2 separate regions of the Homo sapiens genome follow, and region 1 is linked to region 2. Evidence: fine-mapped expression QTL. A gene starts in region 2. The other region holds a variant in brackets. All regions are shown on one strand. Distances are between the middles of the regions. Region 1 holds the start of LOC105371910 (a long non-coding RNA gene). Region 2 holds the start of LINC01993 (long intergenic non-protein coding RNA 1993).

What was found.
Region 1: its variant is fine-mapped to the expression of LINC01993 in lung (GTEx, PIP above 0.99). The same link has a PIP of 0.9 or more in thyroid and visceral fat.

What each region holds. Positions count from the first base shown.
Region 1 is chr17:78,245,706-78,251,072 of GRCh38, forward strand. LOC105371910 (a long non-coding RNA gene) reads left to right here and starts at 2,611. Exons shown (of 2, transcript NR_164160.1): 1 at 2,611-3,060. It also overlaps the pseudogene THA1P. RefSeq lists a silencer at 770-970 and enhancers at 4,358-5,003, 5,185-5,234. The variant G/C (reference allele first, on the strand shown) is at 2,497.
Region 2 is chr17:78,275,336-78,280,702 of GRCh38, forward strand. LINC01993 (long intergenic non-protein coding RNA 1993) reads right to left here and starts at 3,157. Exons shown (of 7, transcript NR_073178.1): 1 at 3,109-3,157. RefSeq lists enhancers at 912-1,181, 1,412-1,461, 2,023-2,856, 2,857-3,690.

The sequences.
Region 1 (5,367 bases), 30 kb before region 2:
ATTCCTGCCAAATTTTTTTTATCTTGACTTATAATTCCTTGAATATTTTATTTTTTATTTTTTTGAGATGGGGGTCTCTCTGTGTCACCCAGGCTGGAATGCAGTGGCACAATCTTAGCTCACTGCAACCTCCACCTCCTGGGAGGCTCAAGCAATCCTCCCACCTCAGTCCCCCATGTAGCTGGGTCTACAGGTGCCACATCTGGCTAATTTTTGTACTTTTAAGTAGAAACAGGGTTTTACCATGTTGCCCAGGCTGGTTTCAAACTCCTGGGTTCAAGCAATCTGCCTGCCTCGGACTCCCAAAATGCTGGGATTACAAGCATGAGCCACCACACCCAGCCTAGAATATTTAATTTAATTAATTAATTTATTTATTTATTTTGAGACGGAGTCTCACCGTCACCCAGGCTGGAGTGCAGTGGCGCAATCTTGGCTAACTGCAACCTCTGCCTCCCGGGTTCAAGCGATTCTCCTGCCTCAGCCTCCAGAGTAGCTGGGATTACAGGTGTGTGCCACCATGCCCAGCTAATTTTTGTATTTTTAGTAGAGATGGAGTTTCACCATGTTTGCTAGGCTGGTCTCGAACTCCTGATCTCAAGTGATCCACCCACCTCGGCCTCCCAAAGTGCTGGGATTGTAGGCATGAGCCACCACACTCAAGCTATTTATTTTTTTAGAGATGGGTCTCGCTCTGTCACCCAGGTTGGAGTGCAGTGGCATGATCACGGTTCACTGCAGCCTTGAACTCCTGGGCTCAAGTGATCCTCCCACCTCAGCCTCCTGGGTAGCTGGGACTACAGGCACAAGCCACTTTGTTATCTGGGTCACCTAAGGGTCTGTTTCTTTTTTTTTTTTTTTGGAGACAGAGTCTTGCTGTGTCACACAGGCTGGAGTACAACAGTGTGATCTTGGCTCACTGCAACCTCCACCTCCTGGGTTCAAATGATTCGCTTGCCTCAGCCTCCCGAATAGCTGGGATTACAGGCCCACACCACTATGACCAGCTAAATTTTTTTTTGGATTTTTAGTAGAGATGGGGTTTCACCATGTTGGCCAGGCTGGTCTCAAACTCCTGACCTCAAGTGATCTGCCCGCCTCTGCCTCCCAAAGTGCTGGGATTAGAGGCATGAGCCACTGCGCCTGGCCTCTTTTGTCCATTTTTTTCTCATTTTCAATCACATCTTGTCCCATTCTATACCTGGTTATTTCTGATTGAGTGGGGGCATCCCACATGAATAACTGTAGAGGAAATTGGAGGCTCTGGGAGACGTCACCTTCCTCCAGAGAAGACGGATCTTTACTTCTGGCAGGCAGCTAGGCCAGAGGCACCCACCACCCCAGATTGCCGTAATCAGGGATCACAGTGCTTCACAGCTGGCTTCACTTCTCACGATGGTCAGTCTACTTCCAATTGCCCTTACTCCTAGTGGGTGGCCCCTCAGGGACTCAACCCAAAGCTTGAGGGTTTTTTTGTTTGTTTGTTTGTTTTTTGAGACAGAGTCTTGCTTGAGGGACTCTTACCAGGGTCTTTCAGCAGGCCTTGAACTTCAGCTTCTGCCCTCAGCCCTGTGTGCCTGTGAAAAGTTCTGCTCAGTTCCTCAGCTCCCGAGCAGACGCGTCGAGGAAAAGTGTCCCAAATGCCAGGCTCACCTCTCTAGGTTCCCTCTTCTCCCAGATCTTGACCTCACAATTCATGACTGCCTTGCAGGCTCTTCAGTACTATCAGATTGTTTGTTTGTTTATTTGTTGAGACAGGGTCTCCCTCTGTCGCCCAGGCTGGAATGCAGTGGTGTGATCTCGGCTCACTGCAGACTCCACCTCCTGGACTTAAATGATCCTCCTACCCCAGGCTCCCACGTAGCTGGGACCACAGATGCACACCCCACCACGCCTGGCTTCATTTTTTTTTTTTTGACTGAGTCTGCCTGAACTACCCTAAGAGTTGCTAAAAGTAAGATTTACTCCCACATCATCTACAATACAGACATATTATTTTGTTAAGCAGAGTAATTTCTTTTCCTTTTTTTTTTTTTTGAGACGGAGTCTGGCTCTGTTACCCAGGCCGGAGTGCAGTGGCGTAATCTCGGCTCACTGCAACCCCCACCTCCCCAGTTCAAGCGATTCTCTCACCTCTGCCTCCCGAGTAGCTGGGACTACGGGTACGCACCACCACACCTGGCTAATTTTTGTATTTTTAGTAGAGATGGGGTTTCACCATGTTGGCCAGGCTGGTCTCGAACTCCTGACCTCAAGTGATCCACCCACCTCGGCCTCCCAAAGTGCTGGGATTACAGGCGTGAGCCACCATGCCCGGCCCTGAGTAATTTATTTTCTAAAAAGGAAAATACGTATTAGAGGACCACAAGATAAAATGGAAATCCCTCACCACGGCAGTTAAAGCCCTGACCATCAAGTTCCCATGTCCCTTTCTGCTTCCTTCTGACGTTTCCCTTCCTGAACTCAGGAAGCTGTAACTGGCCACGTGGCCCTGAA[G/C]AAAGGGCTCCTCTCTGACCTAGAGCGAAGGCCTGCCCCGCTGCCTCCCGAGCTCTGGTGACGGGAGCTGGAAGGGTGTCCTTCCTGTCCCTACACCCTGTCCCAGACACTGGAGGAATTCAGTGTGTGCTGACAAGCATGGGGGAGGTCCTAACCCTGAGTGTTGTGGGGGTGAAGGGGACCAAAGAGCCCCAGGAGCAGGTAACACCTCCTCTGCTGCCTGCTTGCTGGGAACACCTCCACTCCCTGCTTCCACCCCAGCCCGGGCACAGGGTCCCGGTCACTCCGTCCTCAGGACTCCAACGGCCTCAGCACAAACTCCCACTTCCTCAGCACCAGTTCAGTGTCCTACACCGAGACGTCGCGGTGCCACACGGAAGCACGGACTGCTCTGTCCATAGGAACAGTGGCACGCACGCCACGTGGCCAGTGTGGGCCAGCTCATCAGCACTCACGGCCCGCAACCCAGCCATGCTCACCACCACCATGTTCGTCTCCACGAAGGTGGGATCAACTGAGCAGACGGACAACACCAGCTCCTGGAGTCCTGGGCCAGGTCCTGAGGTGAGCAGAGGTGACCCCAGGCCCTGACCCTGACCCCATTGCCAGCAAGGTCACCCGGGAGGCAGGGGGCAGTTCGGTCACGGTAGGAGAAGGAAGGGCCCTGTGTCCTGACTTGGCCTTTGCAGTCACACAGACTGGGCTCTGCTGCGTTTAGCTATGTGATCTCAGACAAACCTATTGACCTCTCTGGGCCTCTGTTTCCTCATTGTGAAGTAGGGACATCATGGGATTGTTGGAGGACTCAGTGAGCAGATGGAAGACCCAGGTTAGAGGCTCTGCCAGACTCTGCAGAGCATCACAATCCTGGCCGTCCACCGAGGGCTTCCCCAGGCTGGACTCTGCGCTGAGTAGGGTCTGCTGAAGCAGCTGGTGCCCTGGGTCCCGCCCTAGTGACTCAATGGCCACCCTGAGTCCCAGGATCCAGAAGCCTGCAGGCCTGCTGGGGGACCCCCGACGGCACAGCTCAGGCCAAGTCAGAGGAAGCACAGGGAAGCGAGGGTGGGGCGTCCTGTCCAGGCACCTTGGGTGAATCTCTGGGCGTTCCCATGGTCTTGCCACAGTGCCTGCTTTGTGTCAACCAGTCCCACCAGGGCCACCGCAGCCAGCATCCCCACCTGGTGCATGCTTCCACCCAGGGCTTTTTGGAGGCGCCAGGCTTCTTCAATGAAGTCCTTGGGCCTCCCAGCCAGGGACCCCACTGGGGCGCCCAGGCCCTGGGAGGTGGAGAGGAGAGACTCCTGCCAGCTCACATCCCTGTCCTTGGGCCAGGGTGGGGACAGATGCGTAGCCCCATCTGCAGAGGTGTTAAAGGGGAACCTGGGGCCAGCTGCCAGGGATGGAGCTCAGGAATCCAACCCTGCCTCCTGCTGGGGCGCCCCACCCCACCTGTCTGTGGGAGGCCAGCCCAGGGCTTTCCCACCTTGGAGAGGCAGAAAGACACAGAGTCACAGTGCTCCACAATGTAGGTGGGCGGGACATGCAGGGCCAGCACCACGTTCATCAGCTGGGCCCTGTCCAGGTGGACCCAGGCCCCATAGGTCTGGGCCAGGAGGTGCACCTGGGGGTGAGGTGCAGGCAGAGTCAGAGGGGCCAGGCCTGAGGGAGGCATAGAGGGAGGAGGGTCCTGGGCTTAGCTGCCTGAGGAATCAGGAGGGATCAGGAGACCTGGCTGGTGACTGGCTCTGGTGATCTGGGACCCAAGCAGTCAGGCTGTGCTGCCTAAGCCTCCATGCTGGGCTCTGGGAGGATCTGGGGGTGCACATTTAACCCAGCTTTGTCGCACACTGAGCATGGGCCAAACGACCGTGGGCCAAGGGTAAATGTGTGTCACCTCATTTAGGCTGCACAACAACTCGAGGGAGACGCCGCTGCTCCCATTTCACAGGCAAGGAACGCAAGGCTTGGAGAGTTAGGCTGCTGCCTAACTAGTGTCTGGTAAACAGCAGAGCTCAGACACTGCGGCCTCCTCACCTCGCACGTGGGTGGCAAGGACCAGGTGGAGGGCACTCACACGAGCTTGTTCCTGCAGCCTCATGGGGCACACGTTTCTGCGCCAGGGCAGCAGGTCCTGGTGCTGCTCTGGGACTCAGCTCTGGGGACTTGGGGGTGGGGGCATCTCTGCTGTTGGGCTGGTGCAGGGACTAGGGGCCCTGACCTGGGGTAATAATTCCCTTTGTGTCTCAGCCTAGGACCACACATGTGTCCTTCCTGTGACAGGTCTGGCCGCTGATGGGTGCCCATGGCATAAATCAGAGGGGACTGAACCCCAGGATGGGCCAGGGGCACAGGAAGCCAGGATCAGGCTGGTGGGGGGCACACAGTGGTGGGGCTGGGCCTACCTGGCGTAGGTAGTTGATGGGGAGGATCCGGACCCCCGAGATGCTGTGTGAGTTCTCCAGGCAAATGAGCTCGCAGACCTGGTGGTAGGGACTCTGGAGGCCCCGCGTGATCATCCTCTCCAGCTCAGCCAGTCCAGAGTGCAGTGGGGCAGCTCTGGGAGGGAGTGGGAGTGCACTCCAGCCCTCTGTGGGTCAGGAAGAGGATGAGGGCTGAGGGGTCCAGGGGCACCTCTTGGCGGAGTGGGGGGCTCCTCTGGAGTAAGGAGCCAGACCCTGAGTCCTGTGTCTGCTCCCCCGAGGCCTGGGCCTTGGAGCCTTTCCTCTGTTCTGTGCATCTAGACAGACGTCCCAGCTGGGGGGCACTGGGCCCCTCCCCTATTAACTCTTCAGATGCTGCTGTCTGGCTCCCGTCGGGAGCGCGGGAGTGCTCCGAGTGTCCACTAGAGGGCACCAGGCACCAAGCACCGCC
Region 2 (5,367 bases):
GAAACTGTCCCCATTAATTAACACTAGCTCCCCATTCCCCTGGACCCCAACCCCTGGCAACCACCATGCTATTTTCTGTCTCTATAAATCTAACAATCTCACATGAGTGGAATCACACGGTATGTGTCTTTGTGTGACTGGCTGATTTCATTTAGTGTGATGTCTTCAAGGTGCATCCACGTGATAGCATAGGTCAGAATTTCCTTCCTTTTTAAGGCTGAATAATATTCCACCGTATGGATAGACCATAGTTTGTTTATCCATTCATGCATCCATGGATACTAGGGTTGCTTCTATCTTCTGGCTATTGCAAATGAATAATGCTGCTATGAACGTGGGTGAACATATCTCTGAGTCTCTGCTTTTAATTCTTTTGGGGATAGATACAGGAGTGGAAGTGCTGGGTTATACGCTAATTCTATGTTTAATTTTTGGAGCATCTCACCACACTGTTTTCCACAGCAATTGTACCATTTTCCATTCCCACCAAAATTGAGTGCACAGGGCCAAGCGCTGTGGCTCACACCTGTAATCCCAGCACTTTGGGAGGCCATGGCGGGTGGATCACTTGAGGTCAGGAGTTTGAGACCGGCCTGGCCAACATGGTGAAACCCCGTCTCTACTAAAAATATAAAAATTAGTCGGGCCATGGTGAAGCATGCCTGTAATCCCAGCTACTCAGGAGGCTGAGGCACGAGAATCGCTTGAATCCAGGAGGTGGAGGTTGTGGTGGGCCGAGATAGTGCCACTGCACTCCAGCCTGGATGACAGTGAGACTCCACCTCAAAAAAAAAAATTGAGTGCACAGGATTCCAATTTCTCCACATCTTCACCAACACTTGTTATTTTCTGTTGTTTTTTTTTTAAAAAAAATAGTAGCCGTCCTAATAGGTATTGAGTGGCGTCGTCTTGTGGTTTTAGTTTGCATTTCAGGCTCCATTTGACTTCGGCTGGTTTGAGGTGAGTTTCTGTTTCTTGTAACTGGCGCTAGTTCAGGTAGGCTCAGCAGCTGCAGAACTCAAAGAGATATGTTCACCCGCGTTCATAGCAGCATTATTCATTTGCAATAGCCAAAAGATAGAAGCAACCCTAGTGTCCATGGATACATGAATGGATAAACAAACTATGGTCTATCCATACTGTGGAATATTATTCAGCCTTAACAAAGGAAGGAAATTCTGACCTATGCTATCATGTGGATGAACCTTGGAGACATCACACTAAGTGAAATCAGCCAGTCACACAAAGACACATACCAGCTCAGCAGCTGCAGCACGGTAGCCAACAATAGCAGCTGTGGCTTGTGGAGAAGTTTATTTCTCCTTCTGTAACAGCCCAGGGCGGGTGCACCCGGTCTATGCAGCCCTACTCCCTTAGGGGACCCAGGCGGATGCTGCTTTGCTACCTTGACGTGGAGTTTCTGAGCTCGCTCTGCCGGTTGCCACCTGGGTCCCCAGGTGGGAGGGTGGAGCACCTGCCAGGATTGATGGGCTAAGGGCGGAACTTTCCCCTTGCATTCCATCAGGGGTATTTATCTTTTTTTTTTTTTTTTTTTTTTTGAGATGGAGTCTTGCTCTGTCACCCAGGCTGGAGTGCAGTGGTGCGATCTCGGCTCACTGCAACCTCCGCCTCCCAGGTTCAAGCAATTCTCCTGCCTCAGCCTCCTGAGTAGCTGGGATTACAGGTGCCACCATGCCCAGCTAATTTTGTTATTTTTAGTAGAGACGGGGTTTTGCCATGTTGGCCAGGCTGGTCTCAAACTCCTGACCTCAGGTGATCCGCCCACCTCGGCCTCCCAAAGTGCTGGGATTACAGGAATGAGCCACCGCACCCGGTCTCAGTTGATATTTCTAAGAATCTGCATAGAATAGACCAGCCGACCCTGGATCCTATCAGAGGGTGGAGGCTGGGAGGAGGAAGAGGATCAGGAAAAATAACTAATGCGTACTAGACTTAGTACCTGCGTGCTGAAATAATCTGTACAACAAACCCCAATGTCACGGGCTTACCTATATAACAAACCTGCACGTGGACCCCTGAACTTAAAAGGTTTTTTTAAAAAAAGAGGGTCGGGTACAGTGGCTCACACCTGTAATCCCAGCACTTTGGGAGGCCAAGGTGGGTGGATCATCTGAGGTCAGGAGTTCCAGACCAGTCTGGCCAACATGGTGGAACCCTGTCGTCTCTACTAAAAATACAAAAATTAGCCGGGCATGGTGGTGGGCGTAATCCCATCTACTCGGGAGACTGAGGCAGGAGAATTGCTTGAACCTGGGAGGCGGAGGTTGCAGTCAGCCGAGATCACACCACTGCACTCCAGCCTGGGCGACAGGGCAAGACTCTGTCTCCAAAAAAAAAAAAAAAGGGGAAGCCTGTTGCCCAAAAGGGCTGCTGTGGTACCTAAAAATGTGGGCTTTCTCCTTCTGGGAGGGGGTAGGAAGAAGTCGCCCCCACTCTCCAGGCCCACGGCTGCCCCGCCCCTGCTCACCAGCCGGCTGGCTGTGGCAAAACTAAAGCCTGCCCCGTGCCCTGAGCCCGGCATGTTGTTCAGCCTCTCTGAAATGGTCTCCTTGGATCATGGGCAGAGATGGTACGATGGGATCCCACCCGAGGGGTCCCGGCCGGTGCTCACGGGGCTGGGACCAGCTGCTCTTACTCTGTTTTTCTACCTTTCTCAGCCACTTGGAGGAAGAGAGAATTTTGTTACCTTTTACAGGTAAGGACGCTGAGGTTCACAGGATAAGTCACTTCCAGCCAGGTGTGTGTGACCTCAGATCCATACTCAGAGGGAGGTGGGCTGGGCAGAGCCTCCCACCTGCTCCCCTGGAGGCCCATGAGTCTGGGCACTGGGGCCCCAATTCCTATAAACCGGGGTTGATTACGGAGGACTCCCCTCACCTGCAACCCCGCCTCCCACCACAGAGCCCAGGCAGCAGGGAAGCCTGGAGACAGGCGCAGAGCCTCTGGGCCTGGGTGCCTACCCCTGCCCACCCCCAGGGCCTCAGGCCACAGGAGACCACCTAAAGCAGGAGCCGGGAGTAGGGCCCAGGCTGGGCTGGCACAGCTGGGCCTGTGAGGGGTGGAGGGGCCGCTGGGGAAGGGACTTACCAGCAGCAGCTCTGCTGGGACCTGGGAGGCTCTCCTCATTTCCAGTAACAAGCGGGGGTGGGGGCAGTGGGAGGGAGGAGGCGGCTTTCCCCAGGTGCCAGCTGTGCTTGAAGACAGCCTGTCCCCTCTGCTGTCTCCTGTTCTCAGCTCCTTAATCCCCTCCCCGACCTCGTAGTTGACTCCTGGGCTGACTCCTCCCCTGGAAGGGAAAGAAGAGCCGGGCTCACCCACACCCAACAGGTGCAGCAGCTGCTTGAGGTCACAGTTGCTGAGAAGGGAAGCTGAGGCCAGTGGCAGCTCCAGCCAGGGTTGGTGCAGCCTGCTGAGGGGTCGAGGTCACCCAATCACCCACCCAGCTCCACCTGCCCCCACCCCTCCCACCCAGCCTGGCCACCAGCCCAGACACCTTCCTCACATGGCCTGAAGACCCCTGCTGACCTGTGGCACCATGTGGCCCAGCAGGGTGGCCAGGCTGGCCGGGGTCATGGGGTGGGGGACGCTGCTCCCCACCTGCCCTGGGGTGGTCGGTGCTGTTGGGGAGGCCACTCTCTAGGGGCATCTGCCAGGTAGGCAGACCAGAAACTTACCCCGAGTTCTGTGACCCGCTCCGGGGAGCGGGGCATCTCATGTCCTCTCAGCCACGTCTGAAAGCTGGGACATGGCAGAGTGGGCAGGGCTGCCCTCTGAGCTGACCCCCTTCCCCTCCTCCCCATCTTGTCTCTCCTCAGATCTAGGGCTCACTCTGAGGCGTGGGTGACACTTGCCCCCCAACCCCAGCCTCTTCAGTGCAGGGAGGCAGGGCCTGAACTTCGGAGGGCCTTGGGGCAGGTTCCTGGGGCTTGCAGTGAGGCCTCCCCTTTCCCAGGGAGAGGAAGGGAGAAGCCGCGTCTGGCGAGGGAAGCCTGTACCCTCACCCTCACTGTGTCCAGATCTGCACCCCTAACCTGGCCTGGGGAGACTGGCACCAGGTGGAGCTGGTCCCCAAGGAGCCCCAAACCCCAGAACATCTGCTGCAGGGGTCAGCTCTCAGGGGGCCCCAGGGCCAGTCCTCTCTGCACCCCACCTTCCCTGCTCAATGTGGCTTGTAGGAGGTTATGCAAAGCATTATGCAAAGCACATGCAAATGAGACCCAACCACAACTGGTCACTCTCTCCAGGCAAGACCACTGAAGCCCTCTGGTCATCAGCAGGAATGCAGGGGCGCCTATGGCAGGCCGGACTCCAGGTCAGGCCTTGGGGCAGTGAGGAAGAAGGTGCATGCCAGGTAAGCTATAGTCAAAAGGGAGGGACACACACCACCAGGCGAATGAATGAAGCAAATCAATGGCACTCCTCCCTGCCCCAGAATTCAAAATGACAGACCGGTGCAGACAGATGCATGTGTGTTCTGAGAGGTGGTTGTGTACAAGCAAGCTCACTCCTTCAGTCTCCCATTCATTCACTTATTCTGCAAACTCGGTGTCTATTATGAGCCTGGGCTGTTCCAGGGGCTGGGGATATCCCAGCAGATGAAAATGCCTGCTTTGCAGGGCTCCAGTAGGGAGAGAAAGATACAGGTGACAAGTCAGGATGAGCAAGGAGGACACACCGGTGTATGTTCCAGAAACCATAAGGAGGCTGGAGCCAGGCACAGGGAGCCCTGGGCCTTGGGAAGAGTATGGTCTGTGCAGGGGCCATGTAGTGGGAGGGGGCCCTGCAACATCAACCCAGGTGCCCTGGGGAGGTTGTGGTGGAAACAGGCAGAGCACGGAGGGAACCAAGTTCCCCGGGCAGGAGATGCCAGGGGCTGCGGCCAGGGGTGGCAGTGGAAGGGCTGAGAAGTGGTCGGATTCTGGGTTAGGAAGAGAAAGCTGCCCTTTGCCCTCTGAAGCTTCGCCGAAAAATCAGCGGACAAAAGGCAGATTCATAGGAGAAAAGGCTCACAAAATTTACTGTAACTGCATAGCACAGGACTCCCCGGACGTGATTACCCAGTAATCCAGAGGGGTCCAGAACCTGCCATGCCCTTCCTCATGGGAGAAGAGGTGGTGGGAAACCACCTCTTTGAGGCAAAGTCAATGATTTTTGGGGGGAAATGAAATGAATGGGCCCCTTGCTCAGACAATGGTTAGTGAATAATTCTCTTTGGGAATCAAATAGGACCAAAGAACAGACAATGGTTTGGGAGGAAGTTGGTCTGGGCTCTAGGTGTGGTGGTTCATTGCAGCCTCTTCCTTTGTGATGTGAGTTTTAATCTTCTCCGGTTAATAACATTTCAGG